Homo sapiens: one gene and its partners. The protein of the gene in region 2 purifies or fractionates together with the protein of the main gene of each other region. This does not show direct contact. Each region holds a gene or a part of one and is shown on either strand. Other genes may lie near its edges.

The links.
Region 1: the proteins of KAT2B (region 2) and TADA3 purify together in Homo sapiens (affinity purification with mass spectrometry; 10 studies listed by BioGRID and IntAct, with this or other methods). This does not show direct contact.
Region 3: the proteins of KAT2B (region 2) and SUPT3H purify together in Homo sapiens (affinity purification with mass spectrometry; 7 studies listed by BioGRID and IntAct, with this or other methods). This does not show direct contact.

The regions. Positions count from the first base shown.
Region 1 is NC_000003.12:9,782,444-9,786,096, forward strand, and holds part of TADA3 (transcriptional adapter 3), read right to left. Parts: intron 2,983-3,653; coding exon 2,873-2,982; intron 1,771-2,872; coding exon 1,585-1,770; coding exon of another isoform or gene 1,581-1,584; exon of another isoform or gene 683-1,580; intron 666-682; exon of another isoform or gene 569-665; coding exon of another isoform or gene 538-568; exon of another isoform or gene 1-537. UniProt on the Homo sapiens protein: Functions as a component of the PCAF complex. The PCAF complex is capable of efficiently acetylating histones in a nucleosomal context. The PCAF complex could be considered as the human version of the yeast SAGA complex.
Region 2 is NC_000003.12:20,046,898-20,050,550, forward strand, and holds part of KAT2B (histone acetyltransferase KAT2B), read left to right. Parts: intron 1-3,653. UniProt on the Homo sapiens protein: Functions as a histone acetyltransferase (HAT) to promote transcriptional activation. Has significant histone acetyltransferase activity with core histones (H3 and H4), and also with nucleosome core particles.
Region 3 is NC_000006.12:44,951,305-44,954,957, forward strand, and holds part of SUPT3H (transcription initiation protein SPT3 homolog), read right to left. Parts: intron 3,304-3,653; coding exon 3,191-3,303; intron 2,114-3,190; coding exon 2,006-2,113; intron 1-2,005.

The DNA of each region.
Region 1 (3,653 bases), about 10 Mb from region 2:
CCCTGACACACAGTAGGCCCTCAGCATACATTAGTCACTCTTATCCTTAAATACCCTGGCAGCTTGTCAGCAACTACCTCTCCTTTTAATGGCACTTATCTTTACTGATCATCTGCTAGTAATCTGCAAGTCCCTTGCTCTGCCTCTCTTGCTGGCCCCCAGCACAATATCTAAGAGACAGTAAGAATGGCCAAATGATTAGCCTGGCATGGTAGTGCATGCCTGTAATCCCAACTACTCAGGAGGCTGAGGCAGGAGAACTGCCTGAACCCGGGAGGCGGAGGTTGCAGTGAGCCGAGATCATGGCACTGCACTCCAGCCTGGGCAACAGAGTGAGACACCGTCTCAAAAAAAAAAAAAAAAGGCCAAATGAATGAATGTGCCCTGTCCTGTCAGGGCTCTATGAAGTTAAGACACAGCACTTGTCTGTGAGAAGCAAAGAGACTTGTTCGGGTTGCTTCCCTATCTCTTTACCTAAAGGGTAGCTATTCCACAGTCTTCCTCAAGATGTCACCTATACCCTCGTGATCAATGCAGAACAAGATGGATGGGAGTTGACATCAAATGAATGGCAGGCACTGTGATGGATTCCCAAAAGAACATGTCCTAAAACACTGGTCAATTTCTTGTGATGAGCAAATAAAAATCACAGATCTCCAACAAAATGTTAACAGTTAATTAGTCTAGGTGGAGAATATACTGATGTTTATTGTATGATTCTTTCAGATTTTCTGTGTGTATCAAATTTTTAATAACAAAACTTTGGGGATAAAAAGAAAAGAAGCATGAAAAGACAAAAAATAAATCACACAACAATGTGAATATGGGTAACACTACTAAACTGTACACTTAAAAATGGTTAAGAAGCGTAAATTTTTTTTCTTTTTTTTTTTGAGATGCAGTTTCACTCTTGTTGCCCAGGCTGGAATGCAATGGTGCAGTCTCAGCTCACTGCAACCTCCGCCTCCCAGGTTCAACTGATTCTCCTGCCTCAGCCTCCCATGGAGATACATTTTATATTATGCCTTTACCATAATTAAAAAACCAAACTAGGCCAGGCGCAGTGGCTCACGCCTGTAATCCCGGCACTTTGGGAGGCCGAGGCGGGTGGATCACGAGGTCAGGAGATCGAGACCATCCTGGCTAACACGGTGAAACCCCGTCTCTACTAAAAATACAAAAAAATTAGCTGGGCGTGGTGGTGGGTGCCTGTAGTATCAGCTACTCAGGAGGCTGAGGCAGGAGAATGGCATGAACCTGGGAGGCGGAGCTTGCAGTGAGCCGAGATCATGCCACTGCACTCCAGCCTGGGTGACAGTGCGAGACTCCCTCTCAAAAAAAAACAAAACAAAAACAAATCAAATCAATCGGTCAGTCACAGATGCCTGAGCCCCACTCTGTGGAATCAGAATTTGTTTGGGACATACCCGGTGGACTGGCCACTGCTGTTTTTTTCGAGGCTCTCCAGGTGATTTAGAGGCCAGCCAGGATTGGAAAGCCTGTTGTAAAACCCCTGAAAGGTGACTAGCCGTGGCCACAGCCTCCAAGGCCACCCCCGGGACTGTGCATCCTGCTAACGCTCACCTCAGCAGGTCGTGCTTCTTGGTGCGGTTGTGGGCACTAAGTGCCTTCAGCTCAGCCTGCCGTTTGCGAAGCTCAGCAAGGACCTCATCCTCGGAGTCCTCTGCGGGGCGGTCCTCAGACTCCAAAAGGCCCTGGGCAATTAGCTCCTCCTTGATGCGGCTCTCCAGGGACTTAGTATGCGGCACACTGCAGCGGGAGGCAGGCCCGTCAGACTCAAGAGCCAGCTTGGAGAAGGGCCCACCTTGGAGGTTCCCAGGGCTTCCCAAGGTCAGTGAAAACCTGCCTTTCCCTTTGGGCACCCCCTCTGTATCTATCCAGATACAAAGGGAGGGACAGACACATCTGGTCTGGTTTTTAAAACAAGCAACGTATGTATCTACTATTCAAAAAATATGGAAAAACCCATAATGCCAACAACCCAGAGAGAATTACTATTATTTTGTTATATATTATTATATATATTCCAGATTTTGTTATATATTATTCCTAATCTTTTGCTACATATTAGTCCAGGTTTTTTCCCTTATGTGCACATATTTAAATATATTGTAAGTAAGCCAGGCATGGTGGCTCACACCTGTAATCCCAGCACTTTGGAAGGCCGAGGTGGGAGGATCACCTGAGGTCAGGAGTTCAAGACCAGCCCGGCCAAGATGGTGAAACCCCGTCTCTACTAAAAATACAAAAATGAGCCATACATGGTGGCAGGCGCCTGTAATCACAGCTACTTGGTGGCTGAGGCAGGAGAATCGCTTGAACCTGGGAGGCGGAGGTTGCAGTGAGCCAAGATTGCGCCATTGCGCTCCAACCTAAACGACAAGAGCGAGACTCCATCTCAAAAAAAAAAAAAGAAAAAGAAAAAAAGAAATATATTTTAAGTAAAAATAGTATTATACCATCCATACTGGGCTACAACTAATATTTTCTCCACTTGTCACTCTATAATTTACATCTTTTCATGTCATTTAACTATATTTCTCTATACTTGCAGCTATATGATTAATAGCCCCAAGTTATTTCATCATATGGAGTTATGCCAATTTAGCCAACCATTCCCCTTCAGCAGGACATTTGGGTTATTTATGGTATGAACAGTTCTGTGCTGAACAACCCTGCACTCAGTCTGTGCATGCAGACACGCTGGGTCATCACTCACACTTGAGACTGCTATTAGGCTTCACCTAACTGCCCCCAGCCTCTTACTGATGAGGACTTCCCCAGGTTGAGATGGAGAGAAGCCAACAGAAGCGGGGGCCAGACTGTGGGTTGTGGATAGGACACCACTCACCTGAAGGGCTTGTTCTGATTGCGAGGGGAGGTGCTTGCCCCGTCAGCCCCTGATTCTTTCCCAGACATGTCAGGAATAGGAGAATCCTCCATAGGGGAAATAATATTTTCCTAGAAGACCACAAAAATGAGTGGAAGGAAAAATAGCTGTTCCACTTTCCTGCTCCTTTCTGACCTACACTGACAGTCTTCAAACACCAGAAATATCCTTTTATCTTTCCCATCCCACCTACCGTGGGAAGCCTTCCCATACCAATCCCAAATTGCTTTGATCATTCTAGAAATCCCTTTTATTTTCGTACTGATGTGAAGAAAAAGGAACACAGAAGAGAAATGATTAACACTCAATGATGGTAATGAACAGCTAAGGTTTGTGAAGCGTCTGCAACGCACCAGGCAGTGTGCTAGGCCTGCTGTGGCGGAGATGCTAGCTGTCCGAATGCCATACTCTTCTTTCCTCCACGGCAGCTAGGCAATGCCTGTCCAGTTGTACTTCCCAGGCTCTCTTGCAGGCGGGTATGGTCATGTGACAAGTTCTCTCCAGGGGAAAGTGATCAGAAGAGATAAGAGCCATAGCTAGGCATGGGCCAAAAAGTTTCCTTCACACACTCCTCCTTGTTTTGTTTTGTTTTTTTTTTTTGAGATGGAGTCTCACTTTGTCACCCAGGCTGTGGAGTGCAGTGGCACAATTTCGGCTTACTGCAAGCTCCGCCTCCTGGGTTCATGCCATTCTCCTGCCTCAGCCTCCCAAGTAGTTGGGACTACAGGCGCCTGCCACTATG
Region 2 (3,653 bases):
CTAGTGAGTGGAGGCCAGTAATGTTGCTATACATCCCACAATGCACAGGACAACTCCCCCCAACGAATGATTATCTGGTCCAAAATATTAATAGAATTAACAGAAGTTGAGAAAGCCTGTTTTAGACAAATACCTTTGCAGCACAGAAAGAAAAAACATCAATGGTTTTTGTTTTGCCCCCCCCTTTTTTTTTTCTGAGGCTTTTTTGAGGCAGGGTCTTACTCTGCTTCCCAGGCTGGAGTGCAGTGGGCTCAGGTGGTCCTCCCACCCTAGTCTCCCAAGTAGCTGGGAGGCTACTTGGCCAGGCGCACGTCACCATGGCCGGCTAATTTTTGTATTTTTTATAGAGATGTTTCGCCAACCTGGGTTTCGCCATGTTTAACAGGCTGGTCTTGAACTCCTGGGCTCAAGCAATTGGCCTGCCTTGGCCTTCCAAAGTGCTGGGATTACAGGCATGAACCACCACGCCTAGCCTAAACCAATGCTTTTAATATGAATATGACTAACACTTAAAATCTGAAAAATCTCACTTCGTGAATCATGGGCATATATTTTAAACAGCTTTATTGCGGTATAATTTATAGATCATAAAACTTGCCCACTGTAACTATGCTGCTTTTGAGTTAATGTATGCAGTTGTGCATCCATCACCACAACCCAGTGTTATGACTTCTTCCATCCCCGAAAGTTTCCTCTTGCCGTGAGTACCTTTTTTTTTTTTTTTTTTTGAGACGGAGCCTCACTCTGTCACCCAGGCTGGAGTGGAGTGCAGTGGTGTGATCTCAGTTTACTGCAGCCTCCACCTCCCGGGTTCAAGCAATTTGCCTGCCTCAGCCTCCTGAGTAGCTGGGATTACAGGCAAGTGCCACCATGCCCTGTTAAATTTTTTTGTATTTTTAGTAGAGACGGGGTTTCACCATGTTGGCCAGGCTGGTCTCAAACTCCTGACCTCAAGTGATCTGTCTGCCTGCGCCTCCTGAAGTGCTGGGATTACAGGCATGAGCCACCACACAAGGCCCATGAATACCTTTTTAAAGTGATATTTTGTATCAAATTGGTTGTTGGTTTGCAAACAGAAACTAAATTAGAAATATCTTTTTGGCAAGGCTTCAGATAGGCAATATTGTCACAGCAAAGTACAAAGCATGGAGGGAGGTGGATAAGATGTTGTTTTAAAAGATCAGTCTTTAGCCACATAAGTTTATTGCATACAATTGTATCCTGTGGTGACTTCTCTAAAATGCGGTAAGTGTCATAAAGCCAAGCATACAAAGGAAAAAATGTTTCATTTGGCAGGCACAATACAAAAAGCCTGAGAGAAAGATGTCCAAATTTAATTCTGTATCCTCAGAAATTTTCAGGGAAGATGGAAATTCAAGCCTGCAAAGCCTTCAGATTGCAATTTGTAGTTTTATATAACTGAGAAAGTGTTTTACAGGGCAAAACAGCAAAATCTGCTGAGGACTGTTTTGTTTTAGGAAGTGTGTGCTTGGAAATAGCGATTTGTGATATAGCGCTGTTTAAGGTTTTTGTTTTGTTTTGTTTTTAAAAATCATCTGGCAGATTTAAACCCAGTTGCCTCGGTGTTAGCCAGATTTAATTCTGCGGTTGTTAAGTAAATCCATAGGGTCTGATCCATCATGGTGACTATGGAGGGTGAAATATAAACTTTCCTGTAAGATGCCTGGGAGCAGTCAGCACATCTGCTTCTCAGATGAATACTCCGTGTAGTGCCAATAAAATTAGGATTTTCAAGGCTCAGTGGCTTCTGATTTAGTTAGTCTGTCGTTAAGAGAAAAGTGGCTATTTAGGAAAAATTGTCAACAGTTTCCTACTCTTGCATGCTGCTTTTCTGCTGTGGTCATCTGATTCAAACGGGGAATTAGAACAGGCACATTGGCTACTCACACATGGGGAGAGAAGGAGGGGAATCCTTGCTTCTTTCCCTCTATGCTGGGTGCCTTTGGGCAGCGCCCCCCTTTTCTTTTTTTTGAGACGGAGTCTTGCTCTGTCGCCAGGCTGGAGTGCAGTGGCGTGCACTGCAACCTCCACCTCCCAGGTTGAAGTGATTCTCCTGCCTCAGCCTTCCGAGTAGTTGAGACTACAGGCCCCCGCCACCACGCCCGGCTAATTTTTGTATTTTTAGTAGAGACGGGGTTTCACCATGTTGCCCAAGATGGTCTCGATTTCTTGACCTCGTGATCCGCCCACCTTGGCCTCTCAAAGTGCCGGGATTACAGGTGTGAGCCACCGCGCCTGGCCGGGCATCGCCTTAACTGCCTAGTTTCAGTTTCCTCCTTGGTGAAGTAGGAGTCCAGGTGCCACCTCATTGACTTATTGTGAAGATTAAATACTTCAGGATATATGAAAGTTCTTGGAACCTAGGCATTCCACAAATGTCTATTTAATTTTATTTGTAAAAAACGTTCCATTGGTATTAGCAGTTTGTGTGTTTGCCAAAGTGTTATGTCTCACGACATTTGATTCTTCTACCCGGGGAAAGTGGAAGGTAAGGGAGTTCATTTTACTAGCAGGGAACTGAGACTCAAAGAGGTTAAGTGACTTCTTCAAGCTACAGTGGTTACTCATGAAAGCGTCTGCCCAAGTAGATCCTCTTTCCTATGCACCATTTTGCCTCCTCTTCCAAAACTTTCGCATGGGGTAGAGGGGGTCGCTTTTCTTCCAAATGGTTTCTTGAGAGGATTACATTTGTTTTAGGCATTCTGCTGTCGTTTGAAATTTATTGTACTCCAATTGAGAGGTATGTTCAAAGGATTTTCTAGTCCATTGAACCTGTGCAGGCCATAAAGTAAACAAAATAAGCATTCTTTATTACTGGCCCAGGACAGACATATACATGCTCTTGATTGTTTTAAAGTTGACAATCAAGACTGGTCACTGTGCTGGCCCAATAGAATTCTCTGTTGAAGAAAGATGAAAGAGACACCTACTCAGGCTATAGAAGGTGCCAAATGTGTCAGAAAGTTAAGAAATTGACTGTCTTGAAAGTTTAGAAGTCCAGCTGGGCACCGTGGCTCCCCCTTGTAATCCCAGCATTTTGGGAGGCTGAGGCAGGCGGATCGCTTGAGCTCAGGAGTTCGAGACCAGCCTGGGCAACACGGTGAGACCCGGTCTCTACTAAAAATACAAATATTAGCAGGGCGTGGTGGCTTGCACCTATAGTCCCAGCTACTCAGAAGGCTGAGGTGGGACGACTGCTTGAGCCCAGGAGGCAGAGATTGCAGTGAGCTGAGATCATACCACTGCACTCTAGCCTGGGCAATGGAGTGAGACCCTGTCTCAAAAAAAAAAAAAAAAGATTTAGAAGTCCCCCAACCAGTTTATATAAGACGGTTCACACAACAGTATCTCAACATGATAAAAAGGAGTCATTAAAAAAAACTTTTAGTTGCATTACACATAAAGGGCTCAAATCATGTTTATAGCGCAATTAATTTTTACATGTGTATACATCTATGCAACTGCCACCTAGATAAAGCTGTAGGACATTTTCAGCATCTCAGAGGGTTCTCTTGTGCCTCCTCCCCACTCCTGGTAATCCTTATTCTGACTTCTATTACCAGAGATTAGTTTTGTCTGTTCTTAAACTTTACATAAATTGAGTCATATGGTATGAATTATTTGTGTCTGGG
Region 3 (3,653 bases), on a different chromosome or scaffold from region 2:
TCTTAAACTGTTTGTTCAATTATTTGCTTATTTGTTTTACAAAATATCCTGTCTCCCTGAACAGAGATCACATCAGTCTCCAGAGTCCCACTTTGGACTCAATTTGGTATAGTATTTGATGTACAGGCCCTTGATGTTAGCTGCTGATTTTGTCAAGTGATAAAGGGCAGGAAGGAAGACTTCCAGTCTCTGAATATTCATCTTGACTACCAGTCACAGGAGGGGAGGGGTGTCTGCCAGCCAGAAAAAAGTTTGAGGCTTATACTAACATATTTTGTCAGGAGGCTCTCTGACACTCATGCTCCCACCTCCCAGAGAGCCCAGGAAATCCAGCACATATAGGATATTCCTCTCAACTGCTGGGTAGCTGGGAACAGCGGCTGCGGTTGCTGAGCAGTTGCCTAGGGCAGCTTGGCCACCCTGGAGAACCAAGAAAAGAGGGGAAATAAAGAGTTTTCCTAGGCATGCAAGCAATCACTTGAATGTTAAAAGAAAACTAGGCCCGTTGTGTTCACAGTAAATTTTCTCAATTAGAAATGTTATAACAAATTTGTCTGATGTTAATGGAAAGCATACTTATACACATATTCATAAAGTGAACAAACATCAAAGACATTTTAAAGGGGGTTTTTTGACATCATAATTTGGGTTTGTAACATAAAGAAAACAAATAGTGATTAATCAACTAAGTAAGCTTTAGGGACTTTTGTATGTTGACTGATAATGATGTATGACCTTTTCTAAGAAAAAAATGGATTTTTAATGGGCATAAACATTTTAATCCCTATTTGGTTTCCAAGCCAATTTGATTTTCCAAGGGGCATAAGAAAATGTTGAATTGTCCTTTTGTTTGTAATAAGATGCTATATGGGCATATATGTTAACATATTTTCTATGTATCCTAGAGCAGAGAAATTTAAACCTAGGGTCCATAGGGTTCACAGATCCCTTGGATCCATAGAATGGCTTCAGAATGTCTCTGAACAATCTGAAACTGTAGGCAAAATTTGTGAATGTGTTTATAGAAAAAGGGTTTATAGTTTTCATCAGATTCTCAAAGGGGTGTGTGACCTAAAGAAGATTACAACTACTTCTTAGAAATGATTTGAACCACTATCCTTGCCTATAGATATTTAACAAGGAGTAGAAATGTGTAATCAAGGTATGGCTATAAAACAGAGCTTAGCCATTTTCAGGTTATATATTTCAACCAACTTGATCCAAAACGTACTTCACAACTCTACATGTAGATGCGAACTTAACCTTCTTGCTGTCTTATCTATGGATATTCGATTGAATTACGTGAAACTGCTGTTTTTGTTAGTGAAAAGGGTCGAATATTGGCAAATACATTCAAGACACTGCAATACATTTCTGGTTTTGAGGTAGATGCTGTTTACAGAGGAGATTCTGTATACTAAAAGTGGTGCACAGTTATTATACAGAGCCTTAAAATTGGAAAGAAAACTTTACGGTTCCCATAGCAAAGCCAGATCAGAAAAGAATATAATTTTCACATAGTAGGGGCAATCTAAAAACTCAAGATGAATGAAGACAAGCTTCTTTAAATCATTTTTAGAGATGAATCAATAACTGAAATGGAAAGTTATCAATAAATGCCAGGGATTATTTTGTGAATAATAATGATAACCCTCTTATCTTTTGAAGCACAAAGAAATAAATGACTTTTCCAACATTACCTAAACCAGTTTTTCATCTCCCATAAAAATAAGAAATGCCTTGCAACTATCCCTTTCAATGAAGGGGTAGGAAAGCTAAGTGAAGCAAGAAAAACGTGAAAAAAGTCATTGTCTTAAGTGGACTGTCAGGGCCTGGCACACAGTAGGTGCTCAATTAAATACTTATTTGAATGTCTAATGTATTAAGATTCTTTGACTGAAGGTTATACACTCCTGCATAATCTTTATTAAAGAATCACTAATGTAAATACCAGATATGTGTCAAAATTCACAAATGTTTTAAGACAGATTTTTTTTGTACTTACCTCAGCAGAGTTGTGATACTGAATGAAGGTTGCAGAAATGGCATGGCTGAAGGGGTCCCCTGCCTTGGTTACCATGTCTTGCCTCACAAGAAGAGCCAGATCCACTAACTAGAAGACCAGAAGAATGAAAGTCACATAGCTAGAAATAATCATGAATGCCACTGAAGTGGCAAACCTAAAAGCAATACATTCTGAATGTTACTGATAATCCTGCTTGCCTAAAAATCTATATTGTAGACATGAGCACACACTTTCATTGACTGGTGAATGGACCTAGTCATGATATATTCTGACTTTTTAGGAGAGTAGTTCTCAAAATTTATTTCACAGTCACTAGTGCAAATTTCTGGGCTTTAAGTCCAGAGATTCTAATTCAGTAGGTCTGTTTTAAGCATATAGTCTAGGAATTTGCTTATTTTATTTTATTTTATTAATTTTTGAAATGGAGTTTCGCTCTTGTTGCCCAGGCTGGAGTGCAATGGTGCGACCTCAGCTCACTGCAACCTCGGCCTCCTAGGTTCAAATGATTCTCCTGCCTCAGCCTTCCTGAGTAGCTGGGACTACAGGTGCCCGCCACCATGCCCGGCTAACTTTTTTTTGGTATTATTAGTAGAGATGTGGTTTCACCATATTGGCCAAGCTGGTCTTGAACTCCTGACTGCAGGTGATCCACCCACCTCGGCCTCCCAAAGTGTTGGGATTACAGGCAAGAGCCACCGCGCCTGGCCAGAATTTGCATTTTAAACAAGAACCAAGGAGATGCTGATGCCTGTGGTCTAAAGACCACATCTTGAGAAAGTCTTTTAGAGGGCGAGATTCCAGACCCAGAATTTGGTAAGTACTCCTAAATTCTCACATACGTAGAAAGGTGTTTTTCAAAGCTCAAAAATAATCTCTAAACAAGGCAGATGTGGATTTGAGTTCAATGTCAAGAAAAAGCATGCAGGGATTCCATTTCTCATTAAGATAAAGGTACAAGAACTCTTTTTTATCCTAGCATCCACTTGAATTGAGGATGCAGAGACACATAACTGAACTAAATTTTAGAAAATGATGTAAATGCCACAGGAGAGAATTCATGGCTGTTATTACTGGTAGAGCAGCAGGGAGAAGAAGAATTGATCATGGGCAGAGATAAAGAAAAACCAGCCAGTGTGGCCCGATATGACAGATTAGAATTCTTACCTGTGCCACAGTTTCATACGCTAAATATGCTAAGATTTCCATTGCGACAACATTGGGTTTTATCTCCATACTGCTGCAGTCCAACCAGTCTCGAAATTTGGAAGCTTTTTTGGCTGGCCATTTAAAAAAAACAAGTGCAGAAATTTTAATTTTTAAAGTGTTTTAATACTGCACATTACTATCACAAAATTAAAAAAGTATACTCAGAATTGTACACAAAAAATAATGCACATAAAATGCATAATTAATGTCTAGATATTCTGGCCCCAAGAAATCCAAGTTTTAACTCTCAGTTATAAGGCAACACAATGGTTGTTTTCAACAACTCTCTTACGTATTTGGGTCTTTTATTTTACACCTATGCTATATGACATAGTATATTAAAGCATTTAATGTTTAATACTTCTCACACTGTCAGATTTACCATTGGCTACCGCTCATGTTACAACAAGAAGTCAGAAGA